2 separate regions of the Homo sapiens genome follow, and region 2 is linked to region 1. Evidence: fine-mapped expression QTL. A gene starts in region 1. The other region holds a variant in brackets. All regions are shown on one strand. Distances are between the middles of the regions. Region 1 holds the start of PLEKHF1 (pleckstrin homology and FYVE domain containing 1). Region 2 holds the start of LOC107985345 (a long non-coding RNA gene).

Evidence for each region.
Region 2: its variant is fine-mapped to the expression of PLEKHF1 in tibial artery (GTEx, PIP 0.90).

What each region holds. Positions count from the first base shown.
Region 1 is chr19:29,656,087-29,671,636 of GRCh38, forward strand. PLEKHF1 (pleckstrin homology and FYVE domain containing 1) reads left to right here and starts at 9,375. Exons shown (of 2, transcript NM_024310.5): 1 at 9,375-9,419. It overlaps LOC105372353 (a long non-coding RNA gene), which reads right to left and starts at 9,169. Exons shown (of 7, transcript XR_935896.3): 1 at 9,121-9,169; 2 at 7,946-8,121; 3 at 1,575-1,857. RefSeq lists a silencer at 8,943-9,612 and enhancers at 9,134-9,687, 9,688-10,241, 9,693-9,812, 10,433-10,482, 12,629-12,938 and 1 more.
Region 2 is chr19:29,718,791-29,734,340 of GRCh38, forward strand. It overlaps LOC107985345 (a long non-coding RNA gene), which reads left to right and starts at 5,343. Exons shown (of 3, transcript XR_001753891.3): 1 at 5,343-5,493; 2 at 6,233-6,288. RefSeq lists a silencer at 9,747-9,941 and enhancers at 11,902-11,951, 12,072-12,121. The variant T/A (reference allele first, on the strand shown) is at 4,386.

The DNA.
Region 1 (15,550 bases):
AATGCAAGGCAAACTTGTCAGCCTCCAGAGGCCTCAGGGAGGGCAGCCAAGGTGGGTGACAGCAGGGAGCCGGGGGCTGTGCAGGAGCAGGATGGGCACATCCTCTAAGAGCACTCAAGCTCAGATTTTTGGGTAGGGGGGCTTTTATCCTATTTTATTTTATTGATGTATAATATACATACAATAAAGTGCACGAATCTTATGTGTATAGTTTGATAATGTTTTTTTTTTGAGATGGAGTCTTACTCTGTCACCCAGGCTGGAGTACAATGGCATGGTCTCAGCTCACTGCAACCTCTGCCTCCCGGGTTCAAGCGGTTCTCCCACCTCAGCCTCCCGAGTAGCTGGGACTACAGGCATGTGCCACCACACCCCGCTAATTTTTGTATTTTTAGTAGAGACGGGTTTCACTATGTTGGCCAGGCTGATCTCAAACTCCTGACCTCGTGATCCACCCACCTCAGCCTCCCAAAGTGCTGGGATTACAAGCGTAAGCCACCGTGCCCGGCCTTAGTTTGATAATTTTTTTACACATATTGTCAGCATTCATCATTTTAGCAATTCTGGTGAATGTCAAGTTTAGATTTATTGATTGATTTATTTATTTTTGAGACAGTGTTTTGCTCTTGTTGCCCAAGCTGGAGTGCAATGGTGCGATCTCGGCTCACTGCAACCTCCGCCTCCTGGGTTCAAGTGATTCTCCTGTCTCAGCCTCCCAAGTAGCTGGGATTACAGGTGCACACCACCACACCCAGCTATTTTTTTGTATTTTGAATAGAAACAGGGTTTCACCATTTTAGCCAGGCTGGTCTTGAACTCCTGACCTCAGGTGATCCACCCACCTCGGCCTCCCAAAGTGCTGGGATTACAGACGTGAGCCACTGTGCCCGGCCCAAGTTTAGATTTTTAAAATCCAGCATGCTAGCCAAGCAAAACGGAACTGTGGGACCTGCAGGCAGCCAGTGTGAAAACCTCACACCTAGGAGTTTTTCATTGCCTGTACAGGTGCCCACAGCACACACACATCTGGAAGTCAGGCCTCTCCTCCACTTCTCTGAATACTCAGGTGCAGTCCCTCCAGAGGGCAGGGCTCATTGCCCTTGCAGTGGATCCCATCTCTCCAGCCCATGTCTACACAGTTTTAATATTCCCAAATTATCAATCACACAAGGTGATGGTATGTATTAGGTTATTGTTATCATCATCATCATCACCACCACCACTGTTAGGATGCACAAATGCAAAAGGTACAAAATTCAAAAGACAGAACACGATGTATGAGTTATCGGTTGCTGCCTAACAAATTACCTCAAAATGTAGTGTCTTGAAGCCTGGGCAACATAGTAAGACGCTAAGACACTGTCTCTACAAAAAGTAAAACCAGCCAGGTGTGGGGGCATGCACCTGTCATCCCAGCTACTCAGGAGGCTGAGGTGGGAGGATCACTTGAGCCCAAGAGTTTGAGGCTGCACATGAGCCATGATTGCACCACTACAGTCCATCCTGGGTGACAGAGCAATACCCTGTCTTTAAAAAGAAAAAAAAACTAGTTGGTGGCTTGAAACAATACATACTTATACGGTATCACAGGGCTTCTGCAGGGCAGGAGCCAGGGAATGGCCCAGCTGGATGGCTCTGCCTCTAGGTCTCCCATGAGGTTGCAGCTAAGATGCTGGTCTAAGCCATGATCACCTCAAGGCTTTCTGGGGCTGAACAGTCTTCCAAGAGTCTTCCTCACCCCTAGCAAGGGGTTGGTCGCTGTTGGCTGGAGGCCTCAGTGTCTCCCATGGGCTTCTCCGGAGGGCTGCATGGACCTCTTCATGACTCAGCAGCCAGCTTCCCCTGGAGTGAGTGATCCTAGGAAGCAAGGCAGAGGCCACAATGTTCTTTATGACCTAGACCTGGAAGCCACGCTCTGTCATTTCCACAGTATCCTGTTGGTTACAGAGGTAAATCCTATTCCCTGTGGAAGAGAACTATACCAGGGCGTGAATACCACAAGGGTGCCAGGCATGGTGGCTCACACATGCAATCCCAGCACTTTGGGAGGCCGAGGCGGGCAGATAGCTTGAGCCCAAGAGTTCCAGACCAGCCTGGACAACATGGTGAAACTCTGAATCTACTAAAATAGAAAAATTAGCCAGGTGTGGTGGTGTGCACCTGTAATCCCAGCTACTTGGGGGGCTGAGGTGGGAGGATTGCTTGGGCCCAGGAGGTAGAGGTTGCAGTGAGCCATGATCGTGCCACTGCACTCCAACCAAGGCAACAGAGCAAGACTCAGTCTCAAAAAACAAAAACAAAAACAAAAACAAAACCACACACACACACACACACACACACACACACATAACAAAACAACAGCAACAAAACAAACAAAAATACCACAAGTGTATACAGTAAATGGGAATCTCCCTCCCACCCATTTTCCCTTCCAGAGGCAAACCCATGACCAGTTTATTGTGAATTCTGCCAGCAATACACACACACACACACACACACACTCTCACACACTCACACTATGCGTCCACTTGTATACCTTACTTTTTTTTACTCAGTATATCCTAGAAATCCTTGCATTTCAGGACATGAAGACCTGCCTTATTTCCTGAAACTGTGGGAAGCCATTCCATTGTATGAATGACTCGTAATTTCTTTGGCCGGCCCCTGTCAGTGGATATTAGGGCTGCTCCCTGCATTTCCCTACTGTAAGCAATGCCACAATAAATGAATGAGTGTTTATATCCTTTTGCACAAGGACAGGAGTATTTAAGGATAAATTCTGGAAGTGGACCAGCTGGAGAAAAAAGAGCCTGTGCTTTTTTTTTTTCTTTTTGACAGAGTCTTACTCTGTCACCCAGGGTGGAGTGCAGTGGCATGATCTTGGCTCACCGCAACCTCCATCTCCTGAGTTCAAGCAATTCTTCTGCCTCGGCCTCCCAAGTAGCTGGGACTACAGGCACCCGCCACCATGCCCACCTAATTTTTTTTTCTTTTTAAGACGTAGTCTTGCTCTGTTGCCCAGGCTGGAGTGCAGTGGTGCGATCTCAGCTCACTGCAACCTCCGCCTCCTGGGGTCAAGCAATTCCCCTGCCTTAGCCTCCCAAGCAACTGGGATTACAGGCATGCACCATCACGCCTGGCTAATTTTTGTATTCTTAGTAGAGACAGGGTTTCACCATGTTGGCCAGGCTGGTCTCGAACTCTTGACCTCATGATCTGCCCGCCTCGGTCTCCCAAAGTGCTGGGATTACAGGCATGAGCCACCGCACCCGGCTCTTGCCCAGCTAATTTTTGTATTTTTAGTAGACGGGATTTCGCATGTTGGCCAGGCTGGTCTCGAACTCCTGACCTCAGGTGACCCGCCTGCCTCAGCCTTCTGAAGTGCTGGAATTACAGGTGTGAGCCACTGTGTCCGGCCAAGTCTGTACATTTTAAAATTTGATCGATGTTGCCACATTGCCCCCCATGAAGGTTGGTTGTAAAAATTTATGCTCTCACCAGCAAGAAAATGGATTTATGAAGGCTTGGGTGGTAATGGCCAAAATGTAGGGCATTCCCTGGGCAGTTCAGTAAGTAATTAAAAATGGAATATCACCTGTCCGGGTGCAGTGGCTCATGTCTGTAATCCCAGCACTTTGGGAGGCCAAGGCAGGAGGATCACTTGAGACCAGGAGTTTGAGACCAGCCTAGGCAACATAGCAAGACCTGTATCTCAATAAAAAATTTAAAAATTAGCTGGGAGTAGTGGCGTGCACCTGAAGTCCCAACTACTCAAGAGGCTGAGGCAGGAGGATTACTTGAGCCCAGAAGTTCAAGACTGCAGTGAGCTATGATTGCACCACTGTAAGCCAGCCTGAGCAACCAAGCGAGTCCCTGTCTCAATAAAATAAATTTTAAAAAGAATAAAAAGTAACATGGAATATCACCCATCCCTGTTCTTTGAAGCCTTTCCCAGCCCCATTCCACAACCAGAGAGCCTCCCTGGCCCTCTCTCACGCCATGTGCTGGACTTTTTCTCTCTCTGGCTTGCTTGTTCCTGGCCCCTGGAATTTCTGTTCTTGCCTTAAATGCAGCAAGTGAGGAGGTATTTGCCAGCCAGACCCCAAAGGCTGACACTGAAATGCCAAATGGTTCTCCAAGATGTGTCATCCAACCAAGACAGCTTCTCCTGCACAGACCCCTGCCCTCTACTCGGGGTGGGCAGCCTTCTCTCCTCATGGATAAATATGACGTGTTCATGGGTTTGCCCCAATGGACTGTGAGCTCCCCAAGGGTAGAGGCAGTGCCACATTCATCCCTGGATCCACTGCCTGGGTAGTGGCACAAAGAGGGATCCAGTAATTGCTGAATGAATGAATGAATGACCCAGACAGAACTTTGTCAAACCAGTGCTGTCAAAAGCCTCTTGGATGTACTCCATTGACATTAGGTGGGTCTAATACTCTCAGGTTATATTGGCCTGCAACATTTATTTCACATCTCGAAGGCATTTTTCAAAAAGCATTGCTTCTGTTTTATTTATTTATTTTTAGAGACAAGGTCTTGCTCTGTTGCCCAGGCTGGAATGCAGTGGTGTGATCTTGGCTCACTGTAGCCTCAAACTCCCAGGCTCAAGCGATCCTCCCTCCTCAGCCTCCTGAGTAGCTGGGACTACAAACACGCACCACCATGCCCAGCTAATTTTTGATATTTTTGTAGAGATGGGGTTTCACTATGTTGCCCAAGCTGGTCTCGAACCCCTGGGCTGAAGTGATCCACCCGCCTCAACCTCCCATAGTGCTGGGATTCCAGGTGTGAGCCACCACGCCCTGCCTGCTTCTGTTTTCTTTTATTTCTCCTTTCCCCCTTTGGCCTGGTTGGAGCCTCAAGGGGAAAATCCATGCTGGGAAACAAAAACAATAATGCCCGTGAACATGAAGTGGATGTGCAGACAGCTGGAATGATAAATGCAGGGCATACACACACACACACACACACACGCACATACACACACACAGAGAGAGAGAGAAAAGAATAAACAGGCAGACGGGCAGGGCAAGTGGGTGCGGGGGCGTCAGTGTCATCTCATGGTTCCGTAGAGTCGAGATTATCTCAGCTTCAAATCCAAGGCCCCTGCAGCAAGCCCGCCCTCAAGATTCTCTTTTGAAGTCACAGTTTGCCAAACATCTCTGGGTTTCCTCCTTTAAAACTAATCTTCTTAACCATTTCAGTAAAAATCTTTTCAAAATGCCCCACATTTTATGGCTTTGAGACTCAGTGTCTTTAGTATGTTACGGTATCTATAAAGAAAGCAGCATTTAGGCCAAGTGCGGTGGCTCACACCTGTAGTCCCAGCACTTTGGGAGACTGAGACAGGAGGATCACTTGAACCCAGGTGTTCGAGACCAGCCTGGCCAACATAATGAGACCTGGTCTCTACAAAAGATTTTTTAAATTAGCTAGGTGTGATGGGTTGTGCCTTTAGTTCCAGCACTTTAGGAGGTAAAGCTGGGAGGATCACAAGGTCAGGTGTTCAAGACCAGCCTGAGCAACATAGAGAGACCCCCCCCGCCTCCCCTACATCTCTACCCAAAATTTAAAAAGTTAGCTGGGCGAAGTTGCATGGGCGCATAGTCCCAGTTACTCAGGAGGCTGAGGCAAGAGGATCGCTTGAGCCCAGGAGGTAGAAGCTGCAGTGAGCCATGATTGTGCCACTGCACTCCAGCCTGAGTGACAGAGCAAGACCTCATCTCTAATAAATAAATAAATTGAAATAAAATAAAAATAATGTTTTAAAAAGAACACAGCATGTAGTAGTTTGGGAATCAGACAAATTTAGGGTCAGTTTGAGGATCTACCCAAGCTAAACAGTAGGACCTCTGTTTCCTTTGTTTTTCTTTAATTTGTTTTCCCAATTTTTTGTTTTGGAAACTTTCAAATCAATAGAATAGTTATAAGAAAAGTTCAACGAATAGCCAGAGATCAGGGACTGGTAAACTTCAGCCCACATCCTGGTTTTGTATGAGCTAAGAATGGTTTTTAATTTTTTCAAATGGTTGGAAAAAAATTTTTAAAGAATTTTTCATAACACACGAAAATTACATGAAATTCAAATATCAGTGTCCATGACGTTAACTCTCTTGTTTAAGTATTGTTTGTGGCTGCTTTTGCTTTGCAACAGTGAAGTTCAATAGTTGCCGTAGAGATCCTGGCTCTCAAAGCCCAAAGTACTTAACATTTGGCCCTTTACAGAAAAAGATTGGAGACTCCTGACCCCAATTTACCAATTGCTAATATTCTGCCTCCTTTGTTTTCTCTCTCTCTTGCTGGAATGTTTGTGTTCATCCTTAAATACTTCAGTGCCTATTTCAGTTTCTTATACTGAAAGCTGGGAATGACAGCTTTAGTGTGGGAAGAGATAAGATAACATAAAATGTTTAGCACACAGTGCTTGGCCTGTAGACAGAACTTAATAAACGATCCAAAAAAAATTCCTGGCATTGAGCACAGAGGTGGTTGCCAGAATCCCTAACCTGAAAATGCCGAGCCCCACTGCTTTTCTGAAACCCGGGTTCCCGCAGTCTGGAAGCCAGCTTTTCCTCCAAAAGGGCTTCTTTCCTGAGAAGTAGCAAACGCCTCGGAGAAACCTCATTCTTTCCACAGCTATGTGGCTTGGCTGACTCAACTTCTGCCTGCCCCTGAGTCACGAGTTTTTCCTCTCTTATTTGGAGGAGCGAGGCCCTCCACCCTCCACCCAGCTGTCCCCACGCACAGCCAGCCCCGCTGGGAAGTGGATGGACAGCTGGGAGACCAGTGCGTGCTGCCTCCAGGGCGTTTCTTGGAGCGCCATTCAGATCCATAGTTGGAAGGAAGGACAGAAGAGGAGACTGAGGTCCAAGTGGGCCCTGGACCACCAGCAGGACAAGGCTAGGAGGAACATCCTCCCTCTAGTTTCCCAGTCATGAAAAGGCTTCCTTCTCCCGAGGCCTCCTCTGTACGGACAAGGTGTTAGATGCCAGGACACTGTTATAAAGAGACAGCCCTGCCTTCCCAGGGGACTGGCTCCCTTCCAAGTCTCACAGCCACCTCCACCCCAGCCAGGGCCTACCCTCCATGAGAAGCAGCTCCTTGCCAGGGAGGTGGCGGAGCTGGCACTGAGCAGTCATGGATCGCAGCCTTGAAGGCTCAGCTTGAAGTCCCCCTCCACCCGCTGGTGACAAGCAGTGTGTACACAGGAGATGGTGTTTCCCAGCATCCCAATGGCCCCACTGACCCTCCTGGTTATTACTCTGCCTGTGGGATCTCAGACCTTGTGTTTTCTGCTCTCTGTGGTATAGAGGCCTGGCTGCCCCTTCAGGACTTGTAAACCCAAACGTATATTCATCTGGAGGTGCAAAAGGGGGTAAAGTGCCCCAAGGGGGAAACCAGAGGGAGTGTGGGGACCATAGTGGAGGGGAGAACACAAGGCCCCTCTAAAGAGGACCCGCATTCTCAAATCTTCTGATTTAAGAGAAGCTGAAGATCCTGATTTTTATGTGAACTCTCCCCATATGAAATGTTCACAGCAATGCATTTTAAAAATGTTTAAACACTTTGAAAGCAAACAGACATTATTCGGGTCTTGTGGGGTTCAGGGTTACTTACCAGGCGGTGACTTCTGTTGAATGCTCATAAAAGCTGTCCTTGCTGATGAGGGCAACGGTAGTGGGTGGGCGCCATGAAGTGGTAGTGGGGAGGGGGCTCCCCAAGGCCACAGCTGGTGGCCCTCTCACTTGCCTGTCCCCTCTCCCTCCCCCTCCGTCACCCCCTTTCCCTTCCCTTCTCAGCTGGGAGAGGACCGTCTCCAGCACTGGGCCCACCTCACAGCCTCGCCCATAGCCCCCTGCCAAGAGAGCAGGCACCTCTTCTAGCTCCAGCCCCACAGCCCTACAGCCCATCAGCCCTCCCCCCGCTGCTCCCCTCTCACCTGGTCCTGGCCCAGCAGGCCTGCCCCGGCCTGAGCCACCCCTCTCAGGGTGCCCAGGTGGAGTTCTATTTGGCAAGACAACCTGCATCTATGTGACAGGTAGGGACTGCGTTCCTCCTATGCGCTGCCCGTTCTCAGCACTCGGTATGCAGGGGTGAACCAGAAGAAAGTCCTGTCTGAACACGAGAAGAAATTACTGTCTAGCCCGTGGGGCTCACAGCCTGGGTGGGAGGCAAGCCACCAGCATGACTTGTTTATGAGCATTCCACAGAAGCCACAGCCTGGTAGGCAGCCCTGAATCCCACGAGCGGCCTCAGGAGAGGACTCTGGGTTGGGAGATGCTTTGCAAAATTACAAACACGGGTGACTGTGGAGGGAGATGGGGTGGAGACAGGGAACCGCTTTGGGTGGCCAGGGCAGCCTCCCTGAGGAGGTGACAGTTTGAGGTCTGATGGAGGTAGAAGCAAAGGCCTGAGGCTTTAAGGAACAGGAAGAAGCCCATTTGAGAGGACCTGTGGGGAGGAGGCCAGGGAGGGCCAGGAAGGCCTCCGGGCACTGAGGCCTGGGAATTTCCTTCTGAGCCGCACAGGAGGCTCAGGTGCGGTTGAGTCAGGGGTGACATAACTTGCTGCTAGTGTTGGACCTGGGTGACGGGCACCAGGGTCCCCTGGACTATTCTCTTTCCTTCAGTTTGAAATTTTCCACTATAAAAAGCTTAAAATAGGCCAGGTGCGGTGGCTCACTACTGAAATCCCAGCACTTTAGGAGGTCAAGGCGAGAGGATGGCTTGAGCTAAGGGGTTCGAGACCAGCCTGGGCAACATAGTGAGACCTCCGTCTGTACAAAAATACAAAAACTAGCCGGTCCTGGTGGGCTAATTCTCCTGGGGTCAGGATGATTTCTGTGCAGGCTGCAGTGAGCCGTGACCGCGCCATTGCACTCCAGCCTGGGCGACAGAGGGAGACACCGTCTCAAAAAAAAAAAAAGGTTATAAAGTGCTGCTGCATTTTCATATTACGATTATTGACCGCTGAGGGTGACTGTGCTGTGAGGCCCGCCGGAGGCACCAGAAGGCACAAGCCTCCCACTGCCCCTTTCCCCGCCAAGTCCCGCAGGTCTCGCAGTCGCGGGCGCCCCCACCCCACCCCTGCCCAAGGCCAGGGTCGCAGTCCCACCGGGTGACGGCAGTCGCGCTCCGCGTGGGGCAGCGGCGAGCGGAAAGGGAAGCCGGGCGGGGCCAGGGGGTCAAACACGGGCGACAGTCCCGCCCAGCCCCGGACCTGCAGCGCGCACAAGCTCGGGCGCCCTCCGAGCGCCGCGCCCAAGCCCCGCCCCTCCCGCTTCCCGGGCTCCGATTGGCCGAGCCACCGCGGGGGCGTGTCCGGCGGAGCTGGCCGGGACCCGGGCGGAGCGGGCGGGGACCCGGGCTACTGCGGTGTGGACTCGAGGGCTGGGCGCGGGGCCGGCGCAGAAGGTGAGTCCCCCCACCGTCCCCCGGCCGGGCTGCGGGTCGCGGGGCAGGCGCATGAGGCGAGTCTCCCATCACCACCCCCGGACAAGCGAGCTCTCTCCCGCCGCGCGGTCTTGGCGGCTCCTGGGCCGGCGGGGCGCAGTGCCGCTGACTCCAGCCCAAGAAGAGGCCTGGGAAGGGCGCTCCTGGGCGGCTTGCGGGGTGAACCTGCAGGGAGCCTGGGGAGAGCGGTCAGGGGTCAGAGCGTCCGAGGCGGAATCCCCGGGGAAACGCGCAGATGTAAGCTGGTGGAGGTAAGGGGGTCGCGGGCCACCCGGGACTGCAGGGGTCTCAGCGCACCCGGTCGCTGGTGGTGTTTCCGGGATCCTGGCCTCGTGTGGCCGCCGGGACCTCTCTTCTCAGCCCCAGTCTGCAGTCTGGAGGCCTGGATGGGACCACTGTCCCCCTGGGCAGGGGCGCGGCGGGGGGCGCTGGGGTCCCAGTTCCTCTGGAGCAGTTGAGTTTGTGATTCTTGGTGGGAGCTGCCAAGGGAAACAGGGTCGGGCACTGCTCCCATCTCAGAGAGGAAACTATTGAGCAGGCCCGCAGAGAGAGGCGGCCTGGAATCTCCCTCCTTTCTCGTTTCCCCAACACCTGGCGGGCCGTGTAGGGCAGAGGTGTGGTCAGCCTCTTTGCAGGTGGGAAAGCAGAGAGGTTCCGAGCCACGCTGAAACTTGATCTCTGCAGCCCAAGGGGAGCACTCCTTTGGAATTTGAACACCTCTGGTATCTCCTGGCCAGAGAGGGTCAGAGGCCAAGGAGGTGGGGAGGTAGTCCCCTAATGCGCTGGGATCGTCCCTCTGCACAGCGTCGTTCCCACTGGAGTCTGTTGTGAGCTGAGATGACTCTCTGACTTCGGCCTGCGTCCCTGCACACGTCAGCCCTCCGGGCTGCCAAAACACAGGCCAGGCAGCCCTGGGTGAACTAGGGGACCTGCCCAACCCAGCCCACCCCGAGGAAGGAAGGGGGATTGGCCAGTGTGGCCTGGAGGGTGGGACAGCCCAGCCAAGCTGACGGACCTGCTCGGGATGGGGTGGGCATCAGGCATTTGGAGCGCAGGCAACACCCGCTGGACTCTGACTTCTGGAGTTCTGATTTGGTCTCTGGTTGAGTGCAGCTTTCCACAGCTCATGGTTATTTTGGAGCCGAGCTTCCTGATCACTCAGCAGGGACCTTGGGCAGTGACTTTGATGTGGTGGAAGTACCTTCCCCAAGGGGGCTTTTGTGAGGATTAAGTGAAATAATGAACGTAATATGCTTAACTTTGTGCCTGGTGAGCTCTAAGTGCTCAGTCGGCGGCACTTCCAGTTTTGTTTTGCTTTGTTTTTCATTACCGGTCTCTTCCCGGAGGAGGGCCTTCCAGGAATCACAGGGCTGGACAGAGCCCAGGGGCGGCCCCTCTGGAGGGAGAGGAGGCTTGGCGCCTGATGCTGCAGTCTCAATGCACATGGAGAAAACCTCACATCCTCACGCTGGCCTGGGAGCCTGCAGGATGTCTCCTGCCGGCACTGCAACCTCATCTGTCCTCCTTGCCCCATCGCTCCTTCCTCCGCAGCCTGACTTCACCCATTCCACCTTGAGCTGCTCCCCAGGACCGGAGCTCTGCCCCTAGATCTTTGCACAGCTGACTTCAGGCTGGAGTGAGTTCACTTCCTCCCAAGGCCTTCCTTCCTCGACCTCCACCGTCCTCCCAGGCCCTGCCCTGCTGGGCGCACCAGTCTTTTTCTTCACAGTGTTTAGCACTGGCTCTCAGAAAAGACCCTGTGAATGTACTTCTAGTCTCACTGGCAAGAAGTGTGCATTCCTGAAGGGCCTGGTCTCCAGCTCCCGGCTGTAACCTCGCACAGTGTCTGGCACACAGTGGGACTCATAAATATTTGGAAAATGAAATCAGGCAGGCATGGAAGCAGGGTGGGTCTGCGTGCGGCCCAGGTCCCTGCAGGGAAGGAGGAGCCCCGATCTGGAAGTCAAGGGAAAGTCCAAAGGGCTGAGCTGCCCCCAGAACTCTGATTCCCTTGGTGACCCTGGCCCTGCACGTCCCTGAGCAGGTTCTCCACCTGTAACCCGAGGCAGAGCAGTTACAGCCCCCACCCCATCCCCCACCGCTGCCCAGCTCCTACTTTCCAGGGCTACCATCTTGGGGCCCCACGCATCTCTCATTTATCCAAAATGCTGTGTCCGGAGTAGGAGAGAGGACAGGACGACTCCCGTCAGGACAGTACCTTGTGTGGCCTGTTCAGCGTGCCCTGCAGTGTGTGCATTATACATTTTACAATGTGGCATGGTGTAGATCAGGGGTTGGCTAACCTTTTCTCTCAAGAGCTGGTAGCAAATAGTTTAGGTTTTGCCAGCCATACAGCCTCTGTCCCACATGGCTGTGTTTGAATAAAACTGGATTTAGAAAAGCTGGCAGTGGCCCAGATTTGGTGTAGCTCTCCAGCCCCTGCTGTTGATCACGTATCACACCTGGGCTGCCACATACAGAACCTGGCTTCATGGCTTCTGCAGCCACACGGGGGCTCTCAGGATGTGGCTCCCAAGCCGCAGTGCTCACATGAGCACCTCCAGCCCCTGTGCAGGCAGCAGGATTGCTGAGCCTGAGAGCCCCCACCCCTCTGAACCCTCAAAGAAAGATGCAGGTCTGTTCGTTGCCTGGTCTCCCAGGCTTACTGAGCCTGCGCTGGGGTCACCCCTCTACCAGCAGCCCTGGGGCCACACTGGGGCCAATACAGGCACTCAGGGCCCAGAGGCTGCCAGGAAGCTCTGTCACCAACATCTTCCCGAGGCAGGCCGGCCCCAAATGAGTAAGGACAGGGCTCAGCTTTTTTCTCCCCTGTGCTAAGCAAGGGAGGTTCACTTCCCTAGTGAGAACAATTAAAAAAAAAAAAAGGATTCCCAGCTGGGCTCAGTGGCTCATACCTGCTATCCCAGCACTTTGGGAGGCTGAGGAGGGAGGATTGCTTGAGGCCAGGAGTTCAAGACCTATCTAAGCAACAGAGTGAACCCTCGCCTCTAAAACAAATTTAAAAATTAGCCAGGCATGTTGGTGCATGCCTGTGGTCCCAGCTACTCAGGAGGCTGAGGCGGGAGGCTTTCTTGAGCCCTGGAGTTCGAGGCTGCAGTTAGCCCTGATTGTGCCACTGTACTTCAGCCTGGGCAACAAAGCAAGACAATGTCTCAGAAAAAAAAAAAAAAGAAAGAAAGAAAAAAGCATTCCCCATCTAACTCAGGGCTGCTGTATTTGCCAAGAAAAACCTACAGGCAAGGTCAAACCAGGATGTGAAGTTGTGGTCATGTAGAGAAGGTGAGCATGCCGGGGCAGCTCCCAGGAGGATGTTGTCTGCCCCGCCCCTCGCCCAACCTGGGACCCTCTGCAGGTTCACAAAGGAGGGCACATGTGAGCCCCTGGCTTCCCCAGTCAGTGTGTGGGGTCAGCTCTCAGCCCAGCCCCTTTCATCGCCACCAGATGCCCCTCCTCGCCCTTCCTGGTCCACATTTTACCATCAGCAGCTGGACACTAGCCCTAAGAGCCTAGAGGGGGTCTGTGAGTCATGGGTGGGGGCAGAGCAGCAAAGGGGTCCCATGTGGAGTGTTCTGCACCCCCTCCAAGGGCTGCAGAGACAGCGTCATGGACTCTGCCCTCTGCTGGACGGGTCCAGGGTGGATTGGGCACCCCTGCCTGCAGCTCTCTTCTGCCTGGTGCTGCTCCTTCCCTTCCTCCATGCCATCCACTTGGCTGGCCCAGTCTCCAGAGCTCAACAAGCCCCCAGGGTTGCGGGAGGGCTACCTGCTCTCTGGGCACAAAGCCCACCTGCCTCAGCTACTGAATGTGGAGGCTTTGGTCTGCAGTCTCAGGTTTGGGTTTTCATCCCGTTTCACCAGTGGCCTGACTTCTCAGCACACAGCTGGGCTGGGGGCACACGTGGCCTTGCTTCTTCGGGGCTCCTGACATCCCCTGCAGGTGCCCAGGCCTGGATGCCATGTGGTCACCCTATCAGGCCCAGCCAGGCGTCCCATCATGAGACATGCTCAGCGGCCCCCAGCCCATGGAGCCCAGGACCCAATCCAGACACTGGCCTGTAATTCTTTTCCTTTTGAAGACCTTAAATTAGAAGAAGCAACACGTGTTCCCATTTCTTGAAATTGGCAGATATTCGGATTTCATCGTGTTTGCTGCTGCCTTTTTTTAAAAAAACTTTTTTAAAAATGAAACCTTATAGACGAAAGTGGAATCCAATCTGAGCCCTCCATTCCTGGTCACATCTATGTCCTCTCCCCAGGCTACTTACTCCTGACTTTCTCCTTCCTATCTTTTATTTTTACCATTCTAACCACTTTCAAGTGTACAGTTCAGTAGTGTTAAGTATATTCCCATTGTTGTGCAACAGATCTCCAAAACTTTTTTTTTCTGAGACGGAACTCACTGTGATGCCCAGGCTGGAGTGCAGTGGTGTGATCTTGGCTCACTGCAATCTCTACTTCCTAGGTTCAAGTGATTCTCCTGCCTCAGCCTCCTCAGTAGCAGGGATTGTAGGTACATACCACCATCCCTGGCTAATTTTTGTATTTTTAGTAGAGACAGGGTTTCACCATATTGGCCAGGCTGGTCTCGAACTCCTGACCTCAAGTGATCTGCCCGCCTTGGCCTCCCAAAATGCTGGGATTACAGGCATGAGCCACCACACCTGGCCTCTAAAACTTTTTAATCGTTTAAAACTGAAACTCCATACCCAGACAACCTCCGCATTCCCCTTCTGGCAGCCCCTGGCAACCACCATTCTATTTTCTGTCTCTATGAATTTGATCAGTATGTATATCTCATATAAGTTATTACAGTATTTGTCCTTTTGTGATGGGCCTGCTTTACTTAGCATGATGTCCTCAGGGCTCATTCGTGTTGTAGTGTGCGTCAGAATTACCTTCCTTTTCGAGGCTGAATAGTATTCCATGGTATGTATGTTCCACATTTTGTTCATCCATTCTCCCATTGACAGACGTTTGAGTTGCTTCCACCTCTTGGCTATTGTGAATGATGCTGATATGAACATGGGAAAGCAGATATTTATTTTAGTCCCTGCTTTCAGTCTGGATATATATCCAGAAGTGGCATTGCTGGATCATATGGTAGTTCTGTTTTTAACCTTTTTTTTTTTTTGAGACGGAGTCTCACTCTGTCGCCCAGGCTGGAGCACAGTGGCGCGATCTCGGCTCACTGCAAGCTCCGCCTGCTGGGTTCACGCCATTCTCCTGCCTCAGCCTCCCGAGTAGCTGGGACTACAGGCGCTCGCCACCACACCAGGCTAATTTTTTGTATTTTAAGAGACAGAGTTTCACCGTGTTGGCCAGGATGGTCTAGATCTCCTGACCTCATGATCCCCCCTCCTCGGCCTCCCAAAGTGCTGGGATTACAGGCGTGAGTATTTTTAACTTTTTAAGGAACTTCCATGCTGTTTTCCTTAGGGGCTGCACCAGTTCCTATTCTCATCAGCAGTGCACAGTTTCCAGTTTCTCCACACCCTCACCAACACTTGTTATTTATTTTTTGTTTTGTTTTTTTCCCCTCCTTTTTTTTTTTTTGAGATGGAATCTCACTCTGTCACACAGGCTGGAGTGCAATGGCGCCATCTTGGCTCACTGCAACCTCTGCTTCCTGGGTTCAAGCGATTCTCCTGCCTCCGCCTCCCGAGTAGCTGGAATTACAGGTGTGAGGCACTGTGTCCGGCCTTCCTCCTACCTATTTTTATTCATAGATATAGTTCTTGAACACTTTCAGAATGTTATGTAATTCCTGCATAAGTGGTGTCACTTTACATACAACATTCTACAGGCTGTGTTTTTCCACTCCACGTTTGTTGTTTGCCGTCAGACCACATTGATCTGTATCTCTCATTGCGTGAGTAGCCCCGGGTTTTTATCCTTTTCCCTGCTGGTAGGCATTTTGGTTGTCTCTGCTGGGCAGTCATTGCTCTTTGTGGAATGCAGTTCTGGTTTTGTCAGATTGTCCCTCAGCCAGGTACTCGGTGATCAGTCATGGTGGGACAGGTCAGTTCTGTCACTGGTAATCCCCTAGGTTTGCAGTATACAGCCAAGATCAGC
Region 2 (15,550 bases), 63 kb after region 1:
GAGGGAAGAGGGCCACCCTTATTCCTTTATCAAGAGCCCACTCCTGTGATCACAGCATTAATCCACTCATGAGGGCAAAGCCCTCATGACCTCATCACTGCTGAAAGGTTCTCCTAGCAATTTGGGAGGCCAATGCAGATCACCTGAGGTCAGGAGTTTGAGACCAGCCAGGCCAACATGGCAAAACCCCATCTCTATTAAAAATAAAAAAATTAGCCGGGCATGGAGGCACATGCCTGTAATCCCACCTACTCGGGAGGCTGAGGCAGAAGAGTCTCTTGAACTCGGGAGGTGGAGGTTGCAGTGAGCCAAGAAAATGCCACTGCACCCCAGCTTGGGTAACAGGGTAGACTCCATCTCAAAAAAAATATATATATATAAAATATATATCGTATAATATATATAACATATATTATATATTATATAAAATATATATAATATATAAGTTTGGACAAAGATATAGAATTATATAATATATAAGTTTGGACAAAGATATAGAATTATATAATATATAATATAATATATCAGTATATATAATTGTACTATTATATAATTATATATAATTATATATATTATATATATAATTATATATATATAATTTATATATATATAAATATATATATAAATTATATATATATATAATATATATATTTATATATATAATATACATATTTATATATATATTATATATATTTATATATATATTATATTTATATATATTTATATATATTATATATATATTATATATATAATATATAAATATATTTATATAATATAAATATATATATTTATATAATATAAATATATATATTTATATATATATAAAATATATATAATATATAAGTTTGGACAAAGATATAGAATTATATAATATATAAGTTTGGACAAAGATATAGAATTATATAATATATAATATAATATATCAGTATATATAATTGTACTATTATATAATTATATATAATTATATATATTTATATATATTAAATTATATATATATAATTATATATATATAAATTATATATATATATAAATTATATATAATTATATTATATATTATATATATAATATAAAAAATAAATATATAAATATATAAATATTAAATATATAAATATGTATTTATATATTATATATAATTATATATTATATTATTATATATAATTATATATAATACAATATTATATATAATATTTAATATAATATATATCTATCTCACCACAACGGCCATTGAATTTCAACATGAGTTTTAAAGGAAACATGCAAACCCTAGCACGAAGTATTCACCAGATGCCAGCTGTGATTATTATAATCTGAGCACGTGCATAGTACATACATGTCCACCCATGGCACAATAAAAATAACAGCCTTGGGCTGAGCATGGTGGCTCATGCCTGTAATCCCAGCCCTTTGGGAGGCCGAGGCAGGCAGATCACGAAATCAAGAGATCGAGACCATCCTGGTCAACATGGTGAAACTCCGTCTCTTCTAAAAATACAAAAATTAGCTGGGCGTGCTGTAGCGCGCCTGTAGTCTCAGCTACTCGGGAGGCTGAGGCAGGAGAATCGCTTAAATCTGGGAGGCGGAGGTTGCAGTGTGCTGAGATGGCCCCACTGCACTCCGCACACCAGCCTGTGCGACAGAGCGAGACCTCGTCTCAAAAAAATAAAAATAACAGCCTCGGGTTAAGCGCGGTGGCTCACTAGTGTAATTCCAGCACTTTGGGAGGTCACGGTGGGAGAATTACTTCAGACCAGGAGTTCAAGACCAGCCTGGGCAACATAGCAATACCTCATCTTTACAAAAAATTTAAAAATTAGTCGGGCATGGTGGCATGTGTCTGTAGACCCAGCTACTCAAGAGGCTGAGGTGGAAGGATCGCTTGAGCCCAGGAGACTGAGGCTGCATTGCAGTGAGCTGTGATCGTACTGCTACACTTCGCCGGGCAACAGAGTGAGATCCTGTCTCAAAAAAATATTAACAGCCTCGGGCCATGCCTATGTCAAGACTGTTGTGTGCAGGGAAACCATCCTGCCACCTCCCTTCGGTCTTGGGAGAGCTTAATCCTGAAAGGGTTGTGGAAGGACAAGGTGGCTTGGGGACTGGTAATGATCTCTTCCCAGGCTTCATCACTGTTCTTTTAAATAATTAATTCATCTTCTTCCTTGGTGTTTACATCCTTCAAATATTTGTAGATGGTTATCATGTCCCTTTAGTCACCACTTAGCACCACTCTGCATATTTGCTGTCATGTTGAGTGTGTGTTATCATCATTGTCATTATTATTATTATTTCCTCCCAGCTCCCTCCCTCAGTCCCTCAGCCACCATCATCACTCAGTGAATTTCCTCCAGGTTCCCAACCTTTCAAGTACCAGGTTACCCAAGATGGGACATTAAAAGTCAGTAGTGATGACAAGCCCTACTTGTCACAGAGGGCTTGCAGGCCCTCTGGTTCCTCACTAATTCTCATCAGTTTCCCCAAAGCCACAGCAAAAAAAAAAAAAAAAAGACAAACTAAGTAAAAACAGCATGCTTACACTGCAAACACAGCTTCCAGACAAATCCCCCAGCCCCTGCTCCCAAACAGATAATCCTCAATTTTCTCAAATACAAAATCAGGATGAGAATCCCTGCTCTCAACAACCTGGGATTATTGTGAGGATTCAAAGAGGAATAAAAACTGAAAGGTGCTTTGTAAACTATAAAACAGGGAGGGTGGTACTATCAGCAATGCCTTCCACATAGGATGGGATTTCTACAAAATGTTCCAGAGGTCAACTGTTCTAAAAAGCTAAAAATTCTAAGTTAGAATTTACAAATGAACTCGATAGAGCCAAGATTCACCCGAAAATCTGTCTATTGAAAGAATATAAAGAGATGCCCTACTTAAAAATCTACTCATAGATGTTAGTATTCCAAATAAAGTGTGGAACTCAGAGCTGGAGGCTGATGGGGCCTTGGAGTTTACAGATGGCCCTGACGAGACTTTAGAAGGTCAAGCTGCTATAAAAGACTTAAAAAAAATCCACCTTGTCTTGCATTTCAGATCTCACTGAAGAGTTCTTCTGTGCCTGGAAGACTTATTTTCAGTCTGAGAAGAATGATTTTTCAATGGTTCTGTTGAACATGCAATTCTCACGCAAGTATTTCTATAATTATCCTGTTTCAGTTATAATACAGTTTCTGGAACAATAGGACTTTTATTGTATTGCCATATCTGTTATAATAGATGTTTTATTACAGAAAATTATGGTAGAGTCACTATTATGATTCTGAAGTTTTTATTTCAAATTGCTCAGAGGATGCAAATTCTTTCTCCCACTAGTTTTACTTTAAGGCAGCTTTGAATTTGGGGTGGGGGTGGTTTGTCTTTTCTTCTATTGGAGCTTTGGTCTGTTTGAGGTTTTGTTCTATAGCAGAATGTTCTCTTTCGCTCCAGTGTACATAAATGAAGTCACCCATGGTATTTGCTTGTTTGTTAGCCTGTGGTGCACACAATTTTAAAAAGAATGTCACCTAGATTGTCTCTATATATCTGCAAAATTTCTTTCATTATTGCTGGAGAAGTCTCCATAACCCTGGTATTAATTTTTTTTGAGATGGAGTCTCACTTTGTCTCCCAGGCTGGAGTGCAGTGGTGCAGTCTCGGCTCACTGCAACCTCTGCCTCCCAGGTTCAAGAAATTCTCTTACCTCAGCCTCCCTAGTAGTTGGGACTACAGGTGTGTACCACCATGCCTGGCTAACTTTTTATTTTTTATTTTTTTAGACGAAGCCTCGCTCTGTCACCCAGGCTGGAGTGCAGTGACACAATCTTGGCTCACTGCAACCTCTGCCTCCCAAGCTCAAGCAATTTCTGGCAAATTTTTGTATTTTTAGTAGGGACGGGGTTTCGCCATGTTGTCCAGGCCGGTCTTGAACGCCTGACATCAAGCGATTTGCCCTCAAGTGACCCACCCACCTTGGCCTCCCAAAGTGCTGGAATTACAGGCATGAGTCACGGCACACGGCTGACAAACTATATTTTGAGAAGGTAAATACTAGTGATCATGAAACACTAATACTAGTGATCATGAAAACAGAGGAGCTGAAACTTCTAGGCACATTCAGGCTAGGTCACATCCTATTTCAGGTGGTAGCTCCACCTTGAAAAGCAGGGGGCTGGAGATTTTCTTGGTTAAATTAGAGGCTGCAGACACCCGCAGCTGCTAGAGGCAGAGCTGGGATTCAGGAATGGGCTTGCTGACTCCAACAGTGAAGGTCTTCCCCTCCAAGAGACCCCACCCGTGGGGAAGGGTGACCCTCAAATCTTGGACATCAGGTCCAACTTTCGGCCCAGTTGACTTTTCCACAAAGGAAGGATTTCAGGGCTCTGAGAAGTCCCAGAATA[T/A]CTGCCCACAGCAATCTAGCATCATCAGAACCCACCTTCACGTGTAGCCACCGTGTCTCCATGTTCCTGGTAATGCACGCTCCCAGGCTCAGAGTCTGGAACTGCTGATGGAGGGGCGGGTTCTGGGCCCTGCAAAGAACCGAGGCTCCGCAGTCACAGTCTTCGATTAGACAGAGCCCCTCCAGTTCTCAGACGATTTCTTAGGCTACCCCGAAAATAGAGAGAGGAAGGGACCTGCCCTTGATCACACTGTCAGTAACACAATCAGAACAGAAATCTAGGGCTCTTGGCCTTCAAGCCTCTGTTCTTCGCTTAACACACGGCTGGCAGAGATGGGGAGACCTGAGAGGGCCCTGAGGGTGAGGGCATTTGCACTGGGTGCAGAGCGCCTTTGGAAGGCAGGGAAGTCCAGGAAGGTAAACACACACACACGTTGTAAATATGGCGAAAATCAGAGAGGAGGAAATGTCAGGGACTCCTCCAGCACGGAAAACATCCTGATAGTTTGGAGCGCCGGGAAGAGTGGGCACCTTGGAATCTGCAAGGCATTCTTTTGCGTTTCACCTGCAGTGGGGTGGGGTCTCTGGGGTCTGCCCTCCCTCCTACTCTACATGCATTACCCATCTTATAGCCGGGCCGTCCCTGCAAAATTCCAGCTGCATGGGGGAACCACACTTCTGACTTCAGAATGAAACCAGTGTTTTGCACACATTCATTCCTCAGTCCCCTTGCTGGGACCCTTCTCTGTTATGAAAGCAGAGATCCCACCCGAATAGGGTGACTTTGGGGCGATGGATTACCTTTGGCAGGTCCTGTGGGTCAGGAATTTAGGGGTGCAGCGTGGGCCCACAGCATACCCAGTAGCCAAGGAAGACCCTCCCCTACCCGAGGCTCAAGCAGGCGCCAGGCCCCAAACCCTCACTCCTCTCTGGTCTAAATCCCCGCCGTAGGATTTTATTTTTCGGTGCTGAGGTGCTTTGCTGGAGGAGCTGCCAGGGGGAGCTGCGCGGGGCAGGCCCGGGGTACCAGAGGCCCTTGCTTTAGCGGCGGCCCTGCGTGTGCCAGAGGCTTGCAGAGTGATCTGAGCACGCCAAGAGATTGCTGTCAAGTAAGCTCCTCCACAAATCTGCAGAAACCTCAAAGATTACAGCGCTCGCACGGCAGGAGCGCAGCGGCTTCCCATACGCCGGCAGACAATGGGGCGGAGGAAGGAAGGGGACGGTGGCCTGGGGACCCCCGCGCCCGCAGCACGTGCACCGAGCCTGGAGCGCCCGCTTTACAGATCTTGTCGCTCCACCCCTAAAACAAAGGCCCCGGGGCCCCATCTGTGCCGGGCGCGGGGGAGGGCGCCGCACTTGCTGCCCGCCGCGTGCAAAGCGAGCCAGACAAAGGGCTCAGCCCTGCAGACGCGAGCAGTGGGGAAATAATTAAGCACTAAGGAAATATTGTATGTGGATTTGAGACCAACGGGAAACGCGCTCCCAAACAATGCTCGTTGTTTGCACCGAGCCGCTTTTCTGCTAAGTTTCATCAAGTAATTTGCATGCCATTTCAATAAAATTAACGAATTATGGTCGAGTTTTTTGTTTTATTGACCTAAAATAAAAATCTTCCTTTCCTTTATTATTGAAATAATTCGCCCCCCATCCCCCCCGGCTCCCATCCTCTGGGAAGGCTGCACAGCGCGCCAAGGAAATCTGTCCTCCCAGCCAGACCCCAGCGGCCTTTCTGCTGCGCTCCACAGCTAACTCCCCGGAAACCCTGCGTTTATTCTGGCTGCCCCCTTTGACTGTGGCAATAAATAGAACTTCAACCCTCTCACTTTCTTATGCCTGCTTTTCTTACAGTGAAAGCACCAGATTTCCGCGTAGGAGGGACTCGGGGGCAACGATGCAATTGGAAGGTAAGGGGCTTCTCTTAAAGCTGCATTTGCAAAGCGAGCACACTGTTTGCTAAGGTTTTATATTGCATCTTTTAAAAAAGATAATGTGGGGCCTGGCATCGTGGCTCACACCTGTAATCCCAGCACTTTGGAAGGCCTAGGAGTTCAAGACCAACCTGGGTAACATAGTGAGACCTCGTCTCTACAACAGATTTAAAAATTAGCCGGGTGTGGTAGCCTGTGCCTGTAGTCTCAGCTACTTGGGAGGCTGAGGCAGGAGGATCACTCGAACCCAGGAGTTTGAGGCTGCAGTGAGCTATGATTGCATCACTGCCCTCCAGCCTAGGAGACATAGCAAGACCCCATTTCTTTAAAAAAAAAAAAAAAGACTAAGAAATCATCACTAATTGGTATTATTAAGGAACAACATCAGTATCACTGTAGTTGTTATTTATTGCTGCATATCAAATGCAAAACTTAGTGGCTTAAGACCAATGTCCTCTCTCACAGCTCCCAAGGGTCAGGAATTTGAGAGTGCTGTAGCTGAGCGGTTCTAGATTGGGCCCTCTCTTGAGGCTGTAGTCATCTGAAGGGGTGCTTGGGCCTGGTGATGTGCTTCCCAGAGGACCACTTTCTCATGTGGCTGGGCTGTTGGCCATGAGGCCTGAGTGCCTCAGCATGTGGGGCTCTCCACAGGCTGTTCCAATGTCCTCTTGATGAGGAAGCTGGCATCCTCCAGAGGGAAGGATCCAAACAACCAAGCAGAAGCCACAGCGTCTTCATGATCTGGCTTAAAGGTTGCACACCATCACTGCAACACCCCTACACATTCGTCCATGTGGCTGGGACTGCACAGAGGCATGAAGGCTGGTAGGCATGGATCACTGGGTCCAACTCAGAGACTGGTTACCATGAGTGATTATCATTAATATGATTTGGTAGGGCTGTTGCAAGTGCCTGGAGGAGGAGAGTATTATACAGCTAAAGCCATCATTTCTTGTCTTTCTAGTCAATGCAAACAAAAGTGGTCAGTTACCTTTAATGGTATTCCCAGACAACAAACATGGACTCAGGGCCTTCCCAGTGCCAGCTCCCCCTTCAGACTGGGGAATAGAACAGTAGCCAAGAGAGATAAGGTCCCCTTCTGGCATCCCTGACTTTTCAGAGAAAGAAAACGTAAGTGTATGCATGAACACAGCAACCAGAGCTACAATACTATCGAGACAGTGCTGCCAAATGGGAAGTACAGGCCAGGTTTGGTGGCTCACGCCTGTAATCCCACCACTTTGAGAAGCTGGGGTGGGAGGATCGCTTGAGGCCAGGAGTTCAAGACCAGACTGGGCAACATAGAGAGCCGTCACTACAAAAATAAAAAATTAGCTGGATATGGTGGCGCACATCTGTAGTCCCAGCTACACAGGAGGCTGGGGCAGGAGGATCGCTTGAGTCCAGGAGCTCAAGGCTGTGATGAGGTATGATCGTGCCATTGCACTCCAGCCTGGATGACAAAGCAATTTAAAAAAAAAGAGGGAAAGTCAGGGAGGAGACTAAGCTCTGAGTGCCAAGGTTGGAGGTCTGTACACCCTGGTCCTCCCTAAATTGCAAATCTGAAATGTCCCAGGCATTGCAGATTTCCTGCAAGCCAAACCTGTTAGTAGAACAACAGACAAAAAATAAGATTTTTTTTTTTTTTTTTTTGAGAAGGAGTCTCACTCTGTCGCCCAGGCTGGAGTGCGATGGCTGCGATCTCAGCTCACTGCAACCTCTGCCTCCCGGGTTCAAGCAATTGTCCTGCCTCAGCCTCCCAAGTAGCTGGGATTGCAGGCACCCGCCACCATGCCAGACTAATTTTTCGTATTTTTAGGAGAGACAGGATTTCACCATGTTGGTCAGGCTGGTCTCAAACTCCTGACCTCAAGTGATCCACTCGCCTCTGCCTCCCAAAGTGCTGGGATTACAGGCGTGAGCCACTGTGCCTGTTTTGATATTGTCACACTTTCATGGAATACCAACACTCCCCCTTCCCAGAAGGCAGGCTCCACAAGGGAGGAGGCTGTTATGTCTTATTTATCCCTGTAGCTCTCATGCCCGGAATGATTGGTACATAATTGGTATCACTAATGACTGTCATTAATAATAATTATCTAATGGCTATCAGCCTTGTTGGTGTCCCCAAGTCTTTCAGGTTTAATGGACGTCCCCCTTAACATTAACAAATAAAAGTGATTTAAGCCCTCAGTCTACTTACAGTGAAACATGAGAACTACAGATGAAATCCTCAGCGCCCCCCAACCAACTGAACAGACCCCCTCTTGGCCAAGGGGACCCCAGAGGAAACTTAACCACAGAGTTCCCAGCCATGATGGGAAGGGAGGTCAGACACACCCCGCTCTACCCACTCCCTTTTGTGGCTTAAACACAAATGAGCAGCATTCATGTTAAAATAGAGGTCATGGTGGTCGCAGTGGCTCACGCCTGTAGTCCCAGCACTTTGGGAGGCTGAGGTGGGAGGATCAACTGTGGTCAGGAGTTCGAGACCAGCCTGGCCAACATGGTGAAACCACTTCTCTACTAAAAATACAAAAATTAGCCGGGTGTGTGGGTGCCTGTAATCCCAGCTACTCAGGGGGCTAAGGCAGGAGAATTGCTTGAACCTGGGAGGTGGAGGTTGCAGTGAGCCGAGATCACGCCACTGTACTCCAGCCTGGGTGATGGACTGAGACCCTGTCTCTAAAAAATAAAAATAAAATAGAGGTCATAAGACTGGCAGAATGGACTCTGTGACAGTAAGATACCAAATCATAACCAGGACCTAAGGGCCATATCAGGGAAGGGTTAAGTCACACACCCCTACACTTAAAGAATAAACTAGTTTCCAGCTGCCGCAAGGGGTTTCTTTTTCTCTAGCAGCTAAACAAGCCAATGGCTTGGAGATAGGTAATATTAAAACAATTGCAGTTCGCCCGCTGCCAGACACTAACTGACCCTCGTTCCACCAGCCAGAACTGCAGCTTTGATTGGACAAGAGGCTGATTCAGTAACTTTCTCCTGATAAGAGACCACTGACCATGGCCTGGTTCTGCCCATTTACAGAGGCTGTGCAATGCCTTCATGTCCCTGATTCACCTTTTGACGTCTACAGCCCGATTGTAATACACTTAAATGTGTATTCTCCACTCCAAGGTGAACATGGGATGTGTGTAACATGCATGTTTGCTTATCACACATGTGTATGGCCTCCTTCCAAGAATATTCATAGCTCTTCCTATATCCCGTTGAATATGTATACCTGGCCAACCCATTCAGCTTGAATTCCTGTCTTATCCCCTCCCACCCTTCCTCAAAGTGCCTGCCTATTGGCTTCTACTGGAGACTACACTTCTTAGCCAGTCAGGGTGGCTGCCTTGCAGGTTGTAACTCTATATGAGAAATAAAGCCCTCCTTTTCTAAATGATTTTTAATTATTTTAAATGAGTGATTTTTAAGCTAGCAGACACCAGCCCGGAATCTCTAAAGGTTGCTGAGAGAGGTGGTAAGAGCCACCTGTGCGTTTCTCCTGATCAGGAGCCTCTAAAGCCTGATTCTTCAGGGTTCGCCTCCTCGCCTCCCTCCTCAGCTCCTCCAGCCCTCCCTCTGTTCAGTGTGCCTGGCCCAAATGAACTGGGAGCTCCAGACCTTCTCGGGGACTTCCCCAAAGTCTCTATAACACAAGGTGTTGGTGCCACAGACTTTGACTGTTGGGTCTACAGTGGCCAGTGAGGGTTCAATGTAGCGGCGTGGCTCACCAGGTGCCTGGAAGGGAATATTGAGACCTCCTGGTTCTTGAGAGTTACTTGGGCCCAGCCAGGCTCTCAGCATCTTACAGGGTCTCCTGCTACTCTCTTATCTGTGGACCAGCCTCTTCCTGGACTCCTTTTCCCATATCAGGGACAATAAAACACTCACCCACTCCAGGCCACAGCTTTTGGGGTCCAGAGCTCTGAACTAACACCTTATGTTTAGTGAGGTCAAATTTTTAGGCTTAGTGCCCATCTTTCTTCTACTTAGTTTTATTTTAAATTATTTTTTAGAAACAGGGTCTCACTGTGTCACCCCGGCTGGAGTGCAGTGGTATAATCATAGCTCACTGCAGCCTGGAATTCCTGGAATCAAGTGATCATCCCACCTCAGCCTCCTGAGTAGCTGGGACTACAGGTGCATGCCACCACACCTGGCTAATTTTTAAATTATTTTTAGAGACAGAGTCTCCCTGTATTGCCCAGGCTAGTCTTGAACTCCTGGCCTCCTGCCTTGGCCTCCCGAAGTGCTGGGACTACAGGCATGAGCCACCACACCCAGCCCCACTCTTCTAAGTGGAGGGAAGGTTTAGTCTGCCCCCGTAACGAATTATGCAACACTCTTTCCCCCTTAGAACATACAAGCACTCTGGTCAAAGTTTCTGAGATTTTATTTTAGGAGCATTTTTCATTTTGGCTAAACATAGACATATATACCCACAAGACTGCCGGTTAAAACAAATAAAATATCATCTTGAGGAAACAAGCACATCTTGAGTAAGTTTCTTTCAAGATGTTTTGGTGCATTCTATGCTATCACTTTGCAGAACAATTTGTTGTCCATGCGGTAACTTTAGGGGCTGTCTGAGATGGTCTGTTCCTAAAAGACTGTGGATGGGAGAGGTGACAGTAAATCCTGGAGAGTGGAGTGAATCCCAGCCATTCTGTGGACAGGTGGGCTGAGGGAGAAGTTCAGAGGGCACTCTAGAGTGATTTGCAACGTCTCAAACAGAAATATAACATCTTCTTTCATCCTCTGCAGAGTCTGGAGCTAAATTCACACCTTTTTTTCCCCTTCCCTCACTTAAAATCAAATTCTCGCCCTTAATACTTCCTTTCAGAACTGCACCGAAAATGACGATGTCTTCTCATGCATATGAATTATCCAAAGTGTAGGAAGATGCGCCCCCACTGGAGTACGCTGAAGCCTTTAACCCAAGTACATTTAATGCTGCGAAGCCCCGAGTGAGGCAAAGGTGTCTTTTTATTTTAGAAGACATTTAGGACAGTTCATGTCACTCTGCACAGATGCACTGAAATTGATTGTGGGGCAAACTATAAAGAGAGCTTATGCTCCCCAAATCTGTTTCCGAGCCAGGTAGGATGATGAATTCTGAGGTGGGACTGAGGGGGAACGGTGGCAGCTCTCTCCCCTGCACGCACCGGCCAACTACTTCCCCGTTTGGACATTGGCGTGACACCCTCCTTCCCTGTTCATCTGTGAAAATGTGCAGCGTTTTCATTTAAAACCTCCTGCTCCAACATGGGGCCTTCTGCAGACCGCAGGGACCCCCAACAATTACTTGTTGGAAGAACAAATGAAGCATAAAGCATGATACTTTATTTTAAACATACAGGTGGCACAAATTTATTTCCAAAGATTTAAGCACCTGATGACTTCTCCTTAGAGAAAAAGCAATAAAAGGAGCCTCTTCTGTCACAAATTTCCACTTAGCATGGTTTGTGCAGAGGCAGAATTTCAGGCTTTTACCACTGAGCTCTGGACATGAAGCAAAGCTAACACTAGAGGGTGCTATAGATTAGGAAATCCAGGGACCATGGGCGCCGGAGCGCGTTCAAGACGCTGCCCTCCCGATTGTAACCTAACAAACTGAGCGTGTCACTTTGCCAGAATTTACCCCTTCACCATTTCTGCTATGATGAAATTATCCAGATATGTTTAATTTGAAATTTTAACTTAGTCTGTGATTATGTGGAATTTCAACACTGGCTGTGGCCCAGTGCAGTGGCTCACTCACACCTGTAATCCCAGTGCTTTGGGAGGCCAAGTCTGGTGGATAATTTGTGGTCAGGAGTTCGAAACCAGCCTGGCCAACATGGTGAAACCCTGTCTCTCCTAAAAATACAGAAATTAGCCTGGTGCCTGTAATCCCAGCTACTCGGGAGGCTGAGGCAGGAGAATTGCTTGAACCCTCAGGAGGCAGAGGTTGCAGTGAGCCGAGATCACGCCACTGCACTCCAGTCCTGTCTAAAAAAAAAAAAAAAAAAAAAAAGGACTGAGCCCAGGTCTGTAGGATAGACACTTTGTGTTTGTATCTTAAGTACTTTGCGATCTCACCCTTACAAACCTGATACTAAATTCCACTTACCTACTTCAGTCCTTCTCTGAGGGAAGGTGGAGTTTGGAGGCAATTTTAGGAAGCAGGATGAGGAAACAGGGAAGGTGACACAGTGAAGGACAAGCCAACACAAGGGTGGATTACCAAGGCTGGTCCCCTCTACAGGCACCCAGGGCTCGGTCCCACGCGGACTGCTGAGTAGACAGAAGACCTTTCAGAATCTTCTGCCTCTCCCCCATTTGCTGAGAGTTCCCTGGGAACGGTAACCCCCGTACCTTCGGGCTGAACATATGTTTGCATGCTGAATGGGCTCTTTCTGCCATCCCATGCCACAGCATTCAGGAAGCCCTGGGGCCAAAGCAAACAGCATGCTTGAGGCAAGGTGCTGTGAGGCCCAAATGAGCTGAAGCTTGCACAAAACTGCTCACCACTGCCATAGCTGAATCAGCGGAGGCCAGGAGGATGCGAGGCGGTGCCCGTGATTGTCTGATCATCTCCCTCTTGGACCGCTGAGACTCAGGCATGCCCTGCATCAAATCCAACCTGTCACCAGGTCTTCAAGGGGGAGGCCTGCGGAAATCCTACTGTGAATGAAACTACAGTTGCTATTCATCGTCTCCCTCCTGCACCTACCACTCCAGATGTCCCTCACTCTTGGCCAGCACTTTGGCTTGTTTAAGTTGTGTGCCAGGTGAGGTGACCACACCTTCCCCCCTGCAGTTTCTGAGTCTTTCCTGAGCTTTGTCTTGGTTGGCCCTTGGCTGCTGTGACTGCCTATTTTATCTAATTGCAGGTTCAAGATTCACCAAGAAGGCAGGGCGCAGTGGCTCACATCTGTAATCCCAGCACTTTGGGAGGCTGAAGCAGGCAGATCACTTCAGCCCAGGAGTTTGAGACCAGCCTGGGCAACAGAGCAAGACCCCATCTCTAAAGAAAAATAATTATTCAGGTGTGGTGGCACATGCCTGTAGTCCCAGCTACTCAGGAGGCGGAGGTGGGAGGATCGCTTGAGCCCAGGAGGTTGAGGCTGCAGTGAGCCGTGATTGCACCATTGCACTCTAGCTGGGCAACAGAGCAAAACCCTGTCTCCAAAAATAATAAGTAAATAAATAAATAAGATACTAAGAGACAGCCCAGTGACTCTCCTGAGTCCCAAACATACTCATCCATCCCTCATGGAGAAACAACTCTATCTCCTTGCAATAATCAGAACTAGTTTCTCCTGCCAGTTTAATCAGTACTTTTTTTATTGCAGTAAAATACACACAACATAAAATGTGCCACTTTAACCATTTTATTATTATTATTATTATTATTATTATTATTAAGACGGAGTTTCACTCTTGTTGCCCATGCTGGAGTGCAGGGGCGCGATCTTGGCTCACTGCAACTTCCACTTTCTGGGTTCAAGCGATTCTCTTGCCTCAGCCTCCGGAGTAGCTGAGATTACAGGCACACGCAGCCATGCCCAGCTAATTTTTGTATTTTTAGTAGAGACGGGGTTTCACCATATTGGTCAGGCTGGTCTCAAACTCCTGACCTCAGGTGATCCACCCACCCCTTGGCCTCCCAAAGTGCTGGGATTACAGGCGTGAACCACCATGCCCAGCCCATTTTAACCATTTTTAAATGTTCATTCAGTGGCCTGAGTTATATGAACATTGCTGGACAACCATTGCTACTATGTATTTCCAAAACTTTTTAATTGCCTTAAACAGAAGCCTTGTAACCATTAAGCAACACCTCCCCATCCCCTCTCCCCTCAGCCCCTAGTAATCACTAGCCTACTTTCTCTGCTACTTTGTCTCTTGTAGATGTTTCAAACAAGTAGAATGATATGATACTTGTCCTTTTGAAACTGACTTATTTTACATAGTATAGTGTTTTCAAGGTCCATCCATGTGGTGCATGTATTAAAGCTTCATGCACTTTTATGGCTGAATAATGTTCCATTGTATGTACAAGGCGTGCCACATTTTGTTATTCATTCACCTGTTAATGGCAACTTGGCTTGTTTCCACTTTTGGGCCCTTGTGGATAATGCTGCAGTGAACATCAGCATGGATGTCTCTGAGTCCTGCTTTCAGTTCTTCAGGGTATATGCCTAGCAGTGGAGTAGCTGATTCTATGTTAATTCTATGTTTAATTTTTTGAGAAACTGCCATATTGTTCTCCAGGCTGGCTGCACCATTCCACATTCCCACTAACCGTGCACAAAGATTCCAATTTCTTACCAACACACTCTCATCAATACATGTTATTTTTAGTTTATCGTGTTTTCATTTTTCTTTTATTAATATATAGCAGGCATTCTAATGGGTGTGGGGTGGTATCTCATTTTGGTTTTGATCTGCATTTTCCTAGTGTTTAGCGATGTTGAGTATACTTTCCTGTGGTCATTTGTATATTTTCTTTGGATGTGTATCTGTTCAAATCCTTTACTCATTTTTAATTGAGTTGTCTTTTTGTTATTGAGTTGTAGGAGTTCCTTATATATTCTTGATTTTAAAACTTTATCAGATATATGATTTGCAGATATTTTCTCCCATTGCATCGGTTGTTTTTTCAGTTTCTTGATAATGTCCTTTCATGCACAAAAGTGTTTAGTTTTGATGAATTCCAATTTGTCTCTTTTTCTTTCTTTGCTCATGTTTTTGGTGTCGTATCTGAGAATCCATTACCAAATCCAAGGTCGTGAAGATTTACCTATATGTTTTCTTGTAAGAGTTCTGATGTTTGTCATTGATCCATGCTGAGTTAACATTTATACCGTATAATGTAGGGGCTACCTCTTCATTCTTTTGCATGTAGAAACTCCGTTATCCTAATTGTTGCTAATTGCCTCTGGCCCACTGACTTGAGAAGCCCAAGAGGACCAGGGAGTATTTGTATTTTCAAGTTCTGTAGAATTGGTGATGTTCCCTGGTGGAGGAGTCCACTCTCCGCTCCTCCTCCCCCATCAAGAACTAAGACGTCGAATTTGCTAGAGCCCCACCCAAAGCTGTGGACACAGGAAGCACACATTTCTCAAGGTGGTCTCTGCGAGTGATGGTGAGAGCAGCCGATCTCACTCCCCCCGCCACCCCCTGGGTTTCCAGCCCCATGTCTTTCTGCTTTTGGGATCATAGCACCATGTGTCTGCTCTTG